2 separate regions of the Homo sapiens genome follow, and region 1 is linked to region 2. Evidence: fine-mapped expression QTL. A gene starts in region 2. The other region holds a variant in brackets. All regions are shown on one strand. Distances are from middle to middle.

Region 1 (4,509 bases), 580 kb before region 2:
GATCGTGCCACTGCACTCCAGCCTGGGTGACAGAGTGAGACTCTGTCTCAAAAAAAAAATTATATCTATTATATATATATATATATTTTTTTTAAGATTTTATATATATATATATATATTTTTTTTTTTTTTTTTTGAGACGGAGTTTTGCTCTGTCGCCCAGGCTGGAGTGCAGTGGCGCGATCTCGACTCACTGCAAGCTCCGCCTCCCGGGTTCACGCCATTCTCCTGCCTCAGCCTCCCGTGTAGCTGGGACTACAGGCGCCCGCCACCATGCCTGGCTAATTTTTGTATTTTTAGTAGAGACGGGGTTTCACCGTGTTAGCCAGGATGGTCTCGATCTCCTGACCTCGTGATCCGCCCGTCTCGGCCTCCCAAAGTGCTGGGATTACAGGCGTGAGCCACCGTGCCCGGCCATATATATATATATTTTAAGATTATATATTTTATATATATATATATATAATTTTTTTTTAAAAAAAAGAATGAGCTCTGGAAATAAATGCAGCAACTTCAAACCAAGGAGTCACCTCTTGCCTCCCCTACATGGACGCAGAACTCCCACCCATGGGGCTGGGCCCACGTCTTGCCCCCATTTCTAGCACTGCCCCCACCAAGGGCTGTGCCTTCACACCCCCGACACCAGGATAGTCCTCACAGACAGGGTGGGTTTCTGGGCCTCGGGCTGATAAGAAGACCCATCCTGATCCTCTGCTGTCTGCTCCTATCCCACAGCGGACAAGTACTGCCCTCTGCTGATCAAAGAAGGGGGGATGCCCCTTCTGAGGGACATAATTAAGATGGCGACCGCACGGCAGGAGACCAAGGAAATGGCCCGGTAAGAGACCAGCAGTGTGTTTCTGCCTGGAACCTTGGTTTAGGGGAGTAAGGGCATAGCGGGCGCCCTCTGGAGGTTAGGAATGGCTGAAATTCCCAGGGACAGCTTAGAGTTGAGTATGGAGGTTGACAGTGTATTGATGTCCACCTGGGGCCTCTCCAAATGTCATCTCGACCACATTGTGGCTGGAAATTAGATGACCAAGCTCGGAACGGAGCATCAGGGCCCTCGTTTGTAAGCTTAGTTTTCTTTTATTCCCAACAAATTCCATCCTTTTATCACTGGGTATTAGCAAGTCAGGTCAGAACTATTCATTATTTTTGGCCAAAGACATTCCCACTAAAGAAGGGACACAGTGTGGTAAAATACATTCTAGAGATAAGATGAGGCAGAGTGCGAGTGAGTTTGCTGAATGTGAAGATCACAAACATGGTGGAGTCTCGGCCTTCCGTGGCTCTGTGGCTTTCACTGCAGCATCTAAAATGTCACCGCCTCCAGTTCTCGAGTTGATCAGGACACGAGAGACTCTCAGGGATGCGACGTGTCGAAATCGTCGAACGACCTTGTTTTCTCCAGGATTCATTCTAGAAGGGAGAACAGTCAAGCTGACCCGAGCACACTTTTTCATGGCTCTGTATAGAGCAAAAGTTCACATGGAGGAGGGGCCTGAAACTCAGAGGCTCCTCAGCCAGCCACTTCCTGGGCCAGGGGAGGGAAGTGTCAGCTGGTTCTGCTATTATATCTGGCCAAAGGCGCTACTGGCCAGGCGAAGTGGCTCACACCTGTAATCCTAGCACTTTGGGAGGCTGAGGTGGGTGCATCACTTGAGGTCAGGAGTTCGAGACCTGGCTAACATGGTAAAACCCCGTCTCTACTAAAAATACAAAAATTAGCTCGG[C/T]GTGGTGGTACGTGCCTGTAATCCCAGCCACTTGGGAGGCTGAGGCAGGAGAATCACTTGAATCCAGGAGGCAGAGGTTGCAGTGAGCCGAGATGGTGCCACTGCACTCCAGCCTGGTCAACAGAGCGAGACTCTGTCTCAAAAAAATAAAATTTAAAAATAAATGGACGGGGCCCACCCCTAGGTTTTCTTTTCCAGTACATCCGGGAGGTGGGAGGTGGCCCTGGAATTTTCATGGTTAACAAGGATTCCCGGGAAATTTGAGAAGCACTGGGTAAGACTGACCAGTTACCTACCACAGTCACTTTGAACATTTCTCCAAGGCCTGTGATGGGAATCTGAGGCACTGGCCTGTCTGACAGCAAGGAGTAAATGACCCTGGACAATGCTTAGGAGAAGGCCCTCGGCCTGTCCACTGACCTCTCTCCCACTCTGGGTATTTGTTTCCTAAAAGGTATTGGGGCATCCCTTTAACACACAGAGGCTGCAGTGAAGCCCCCAAACCACAGGCTTGGTGTTGAATGGGCAAGCTGTCCGGGGTCCAAGGTGACAACCAACAGTGATGGGTGGCAGGGGTCAGGCTGGGGCGGGCGAGACTCGAAATCTGAGCTGGAGTGCTGAGCCCTGGCTGCCACAGGGTAGTGGGGGCCCTTGTGCGAGCACAGCTGCCCCTGCCCGACCCTGGACCTGCCACTGGATCCGGGCCTCTAGGGGAATCTGATGTGCAGTCAGTTTGGGGACCACTGGTGGACTTCTGGAAAGAGAAGGGTCTAGTGTGCAGGGAAAATGAAGAAGAGGTCGCTAAAGAAACTTCCAAAGGGTTTTGGAGGTCGGGCCTGAGCTGATTTGGGGACCCCCTATCCACAGATGCCCTGGGACTGGGGGTGGGAGAAGAGGGGCATGGAAAGGAAGGAAGCGGAGGATGGCTGGTGATGGCATTCACGGCCACAGGTGCCATTCCCTGAGTCCCCTGCACATGCCAGCCACTCTGCCAGCCCCTCTGTCCACATCATTCGGTCAGCATCACCATCACTATGAACACGTGTTTACCCAGCTGCCTAATGATCTCGGAGGGGCTGGGCTCACCCCCACCCAAGCCCACCCTCCAATCCTGTCTCCCCCATTGTCTCCAGCAAGGTGATTGAGCACTGCAGTAACTTTAAAGAGGAGAACATGGACACGTCTAGATAGAGGCCTCCGTCCCCATGGCCGCCACCGCTCTGGACCACAGGCGGGGAGGAAGCATGCTCAAGCAGCCCAGCGGGCGGGCCCCTTCCGAGGGAGCCTCCCACGGAGTGAAGAGACATGGGGGACTTTTGCACAACCGACGCTTTTCCTTAATGTTAGTGAGATATATATATATTATATATATATATTTTTTTTTTGGTTAGGAAGTGTGAAGTTTTGTGTGTATGATTTCTGTGCAAAAACAAAAGCAACACTCCTGAGTCCTTGCAGCTTCCTTGGCCATTCTCAAACCCACTCAGCCTTCATCGCTGACACACACACTCCTACCCCAACCAGACTAAATGCCTATAACGCTGTGAGTGTCCAGTCCTTGTCCAGGAAACTCAGATCCCGGCCTGGCTTCCTTTCATGAGAGGAGCAGGCCTTGGACAGCGTATCGAGCATCCTGACCCACTGCCCCTGCCTGAGAACGCCATCTCGGCTCCCGGGCACAGCTGATGGGGTTTGGGGATTAGAACTTACCCCACTGGGTCTCCCAAAAGCCTTGGTGCTCCCGGCTGTGGGCCATCTGGGGCAGGAAAGTGAGCCATTCCTAGGCTGAGGTCCAGGCAGCCCTGCCCCTGAAGACCCTCTAGGAGCAGGGCACCCAGTGGCCCTGCTGCTGTCCAGCCAGGCCTGCCTGAGGCCACGCTGCTATGGAGGCTGCCTCCTAGTCTCCCACCAGGTCCCAGGCTGTGGAAAGCCCCAGCCCAGGGATGGTCAGAACTCAGGGGCAGATTCCACTGCCCCTTCTGCCAAACACATCCAGAACCTGCCCTCAGCCCTGGAAGCTAGCATCTTCTGGGGCCAGGGGCTTGCTTCCTCGCTCCATAGCCCTCAACTGCCCAGGCGCTCCCACCAGCAGAACTGAGCCTGCCTCCTCCTCCCAGCCTGCCCCGCTGCCCAGAGGACCCCACGCCTCTCAGAGGCAGAGGTCCCATGACAGCCTTTGACCCACAACGGCCACACAGCCGCCTCCAGACCAGCACTCGGACTGCCCTGCAGTGGCCGCTTGGGCCTCCCTGGCGGTCCCGCCCTGCCCTAGGCTTTACCTTGGAAGCCTGAGAGGCGCCGGCTCTCTTGCTCCTCCATCGATGGACACTGCATTGCTTCTCATCGGACACTTGTGGAGCGCAGGGGCCTGGGGAGCAGCGCTAACCCTGGAGGCAGCCTTTGGGTGATGGCTTTTTCTTCCCTTTTCCTCCCGCGGGCCTGTTTTCAGGTGTTCCTAGCATTTCTGCCTCCAGGCAGGACGGCAGGGGTGAGCAGCTTTGGGAGAGACACCTGGCCTTTTTCTCCTGGAGCCTCTCCCTCCCGGCCCTGGGAAGTGGGCGCAGCCCTGTGTTCCCCCAGCTTGGCAGATGGGCTGCATGCGGCGCTCCCTTCCTTCCCACGCTCAGCGGCCCCGGCCAGACCCTGGCAGACTTCACACCTCATTGCTTTACCCCCTGGGGCCTGGGGAAATGTCTGTACTTTGGGAAGTCACAGAAATACATTTTTGTGCAAAATGGAAAACAGAGCGTCTTTTTTTGTGGAGGGGATTGCT
Region 2 (4,000 bases):
GGTGAGGGGTCAGCCCTGCCCTGGATGGGAGGAGGGAGCTGTCCCCTCCCTCCCCAGCCCATCAACGTGGGCTTCTCCCCATACAACACATCTGTGTGGAGGGGCAGGAAGGTCTGTGCCCCTACCCAGCTCCCCGGAGCCCCAACTCAGTGCCCCACCTCACTCAAGACTCACTCTTAATGTTGCCCAGCGTGAACTCGCCGGGCTGGCAACCTGGAACAAAAGTCCTGATCCAGTAGTCACACTTCTTTTTCCTTGGGAGGGAGAGATGGGTGGGTGAGAGGGGAGACAACCCAGGCTTGGGCCTCCTGTGCTGGACAAGGTGGGGCCAGGGCAGCAGCAGGGTTCTGTTGCTCTCAGTCCGGCCCAACCCGTGACAGCTCATCCCCCACTACCTGGAGGGGCCCTACCCCACCCAGCCGAGATGGGCCTGGGCCTTCTCCCTGAGCTGACACCAGGCTGTCCCTCCTGGCCTGCCTGGGGCCCCTGGACCCCACTCAGACCCTCCAGCACCCGATGTCCTTCTTTCCTTTGGCTGCCTCCCTGGGTGGCTTTCACCCCCCCCGCCACCCAACACACAGAAACCCTGCATTTCTCCCCTGCACTCAGCTTGCTGCTTCCCTTCCTATACCCTCTCCCGGGGATCCACCTCGGTACTTCCAGTCTGCTCCATGCCAGCCGTTCCCCTAGCTCTCGGGTCAAACCTGACCCCATCCTTGAGTCCTCCCACTTCCCATCCCCTGGCACCCCAGGGCTGAGCTCCCCAACCTGTCTGTATTCTGCTCCTTGCTCCACAAATGCCCCAATCCCAATCCACTCAGCTGCCAGAGTCAGAAACCCACTGGGGGCGGCTGATCCCTGGCTCCCTGCCTCTTCACCCTGCGCCTGTTCTCTCACACCTGTGACGGCCCCGCTTCACTTTCGCTGGTCTCCCGACCCCCTAGGCTGCACCCCACCAAGTCTCCCCACCCTGCGGCCCAAGAGCCCTGCTCTAAGCCACTCCGCAGCAGATCCGCTGGGGCGGGGCCTGAGGACCGTGCTAGGTGCTAGCGTGGCCACCTGCCCCTCCAGGCTGCTCAGCAGCTCTGCTCAGGGTGACCCTGCGATGGCTTGCTCCTTCCTGAAGGGGGGGCTCTCTCTGACTCCAGCCCCTGCCGGGAACACCCCACATTTCCTTTTGAAGCAGGTTGGCTCTTTTAAGGCCACCTCCCTGGAAGCCTTCCATGAAGGCACTGGGTGGGGTTCCAGGCTGGATCCAGTGTCCCCTCCTCCCGCTCCCAGGCACCCCTCCTCTCTCCGTCTTGTTTTCTAACGACTGTGCATGTCCATCCCCACCACTGTCTGTGTGTCTGCATGGAAATGTGCTATAAACGTTGCTCTAAGGAACAGAGGAAGGATGAACACAGATGAATTCCGGGCAGAACAGCGAGGTGAACGACAGGATCCCTCAGCTTTGGCCATCCCTTGCCTGTGACGTCAGTCTGACTCTCACACCCCCAGGAGATGTCGGCCCTCACCTAAACAGGACGGAGGTGACATTGTAGCTCTTGTCTTCTTTCAGCTCATAGATGGTGGCATACATCTTTTGCGGGTCTTTGTCTTCTCTGAGAATTGCATTCCCTGCCAGGCCTACCACATACCACTTCCCCTGGAACTGCAAGGGACTGATAAGAGGCACAACCCAGGAATGGCCCTAGGAGCCACCCCTCCAGCTCTGTCCCTGTGGCACCTCTGGGCCGCCCAGCTTGGAACCATGAGCCCCTCTAGCTGGGCAGCAGGGCCCAGGCTGGGCCTGCACTGGTGAAGGGGCAGGAGCAGGAGGCCATCAGTCCAGAAGGGAGTCCTGGGGGAAGAGGCGGTTCTGAGTCTGGCAGGGAGGAGGGTGACCTCCTCACTGGAGGAGGCATGTGGCTGGTGGGCCTTCCTGAGCCTCAGTTTCCTCATCTGTGCAGGGGGACTAAAAGTGCTCCCACCTTCTTTGGACAATGGGGGTTATGGGAGAGGGGATGTGGACCTGGGGGAGTCTGTTCAGGCTGAGAGGGGGTGGGGATGGGGGGAAGGGGCATGGTTTCCACCAGGGGACCCTGGTGGCACAGAGTGAGCTGAAACCTGGACCCTGGACTCCTAGAGTCCTGCCCAACGCTCTTCCTGAGTCTCTTCACCTCTCCTCCCCTCTGCTCCCACTCTTCCCCAGGCCCTGCCTGCAGGTGCCCCTCTTGGCCCCTTACTTGGTTGTCCTGGAAGTTCTGCTGCAGAGGGACCTTGCTCAGAGGTGGGGCTGGGATCAGGTCTGAGGTGGAGTCCTGGGCCTGGGCATGCAGAGCCCCCAACAGGGCTAGGCCCAGCCACAGGAGACCTAGGGGCATGATTTCAGGGCCGAGGAAGCAGGCGCTGTGGTGGCTGCTGGGCCTGGCAGGGGTGGAAGAGGAGGTGGCGAGTGAGAGGCTCACCTGGGTGGCCCTATTTATGGGATCTAGGGTGGGTTGATTCATTCTTTGCCAAGGCCAGGAATGTGAGGCAATTGCCAGCAACTCCTGCGGAAACACTTGGCAAGATTTCTGCACCTGGTCAGGATTGGGCAAGACAGAGGGACGGGGAGAGTGAGGGACATTCCCGGAGTGCTGCACCTCTGGCAGGGACAACGACTCCCTCTGTGCCTTCCTTGTGCTGTTTCTTTCTTCTGATTGCCCTGTATGTGGGCCGGTGGCCTGTGAGCCGGAAGAGCTGTCATCTCTGACCCCCCTGCTCAGCTGGATCCCAGGGTGGGGTATGTGCCCTGTGGTCCCCTCCCCACACCCACAGAAAGGAAAGAATGAATGCCTCCTTCCAACAGATCATGTGCTGTTTCCTGGTTCTTTTAAGGGTCAGGGAAGGGTGGGGTGGCTGACAGTGGACAAGGAAAAACAAGGCGTCTGCTCTGAACTCATGGAGCCCAGAATCATGGCCCTCCCAGGAGCCCCAGTCCAGGACCTGCATGTGCTCCAGGGGCCTTGAGACAGCCCCTTGCCCCTCTCCTTGCCCCATTTGCAGGAGGGGACCCCAGTGGACCCCTGAGGGACCCTTCCTCTCCTGTGAGTGCAGTGGGAAGAGACCCCACACAGGGCACATGGGTTGAGTGCTGAGGCTACAGTCCCTGTCCTGGGTGAGTTGGGCTGATGTGTGGGGGCGTGAAGGCGCCACACTGCTGCTCTGGACACCTGTTGCTTTGGGTCACTGACAGTGCAAGGATCTGGCCTTATCCTTGAGGTCACTGAGACCATCCCCCTGACTCTAGTCACAGCCTTTTTCCATTGAACCCAGCAGCCCAGGCCAGGGGTTCTGGAACTGTCACCGAGATGGCTGGTCCCAGCCTTGTCCAGCAGGGAAGCAGTTATCTCAACGGGGGCCTGGCTGGCATCCTCGGGAGGCAGCGATGGATCGTAGGCCCTGTGCAGTGTCCGCAGAGATGGCTCACCCATGAGGGCTGAGGCCGTCCTGGATGCCTGACCTGAGGCTGGACTGAGGGTTCGCTGGTTTTAGAGCTTTCAATGGGACTAACGGGGACCTCACTGGCTCTGCCTACGTGCTGCTTGGGATCCCCAATCTGGGCTTGGGGGCAGCAGGGCCTCAGGGAAGGGGCTCTGGGAGTCCTGAGCTGGGGTTAGTCTAGAGAGGCACCCACTGGATCCCTGCCCCCTCAGGCCCTGTCCTGCCTGCCCGATTGGATGATGAAAGGGCAGGAAGCAAAGATGAGTAAAACTGCAGGGGAACGATGTTGCACCAAAGCCTTCCCTTTCTAGAGGTAGCCAGTGGCTACTCGCTCCCTCCGAACCCCCTCTTCCCCTCATGACCCTGTTCCCAGGAACTCCACCTCTGCTACTGTCTTTGACCTTAAAAAGTATCCTCTGCCAGGCCGGGTGCGGTGGCTCACATCTGTAATCCCAGCATTTGGGAGGCTGAGGCGGGTGGATCACGAGGTCAGGAGTTCGAGACCAGTCTGGCCAACACGGTGAAACCCCAT

Evidence for each region. PIP is the estimated chance that this variant, and not a neighbour inherited with it, causes the effect.
Region 1: its variant is the best candidate, but not a certain one, in a credible set for the expression of LCN2 in whole blood (INTERVAL, PIP 0.68).

Annotation. Positions count from the first base shown.
Region 1 is chr9:128,729,755-128,734,263 of GRCh38, reverse strand. ZER1 (zyg-11 related cell cycle regulator) reads left to right here. Exons shown (of 16, transcript NM_006336.4): 15 at 736-838; 16 at 2,870-4,478. The coding sequence ends at 2,927. It overlaps ZDHHC12-DT (ZDHHC12 divergent transcript), which reads right to left. Exons shown (of 2, transcript NR_046240.1): 2 at 1,021-1,422. Among named protein-coding and RNA genes, the nearest start is that of ZDHHC12-DT, 7.5 kb to the right of the region's middle. RefSeq lists enhancers at 1,070-1,570, 1,571-2,071, 3,865-4,509. The variant C/T (reference allele first, on the strand shown) is at 1,737.
Region 2 is chr9:128,147,892-128,151,891 of GRCh38, reverse strand. LCN2 (lipocalin 2) reads right to left here and starts at 2,439. Exons shown (of 7, transcript NM_005564.5): 1 at 2,229-2,439; 2 at 1,518-1,654; 3 at 175-254. The coding sequence starts at 2,366. RefSeq lists a silencer at 1,040-1,089.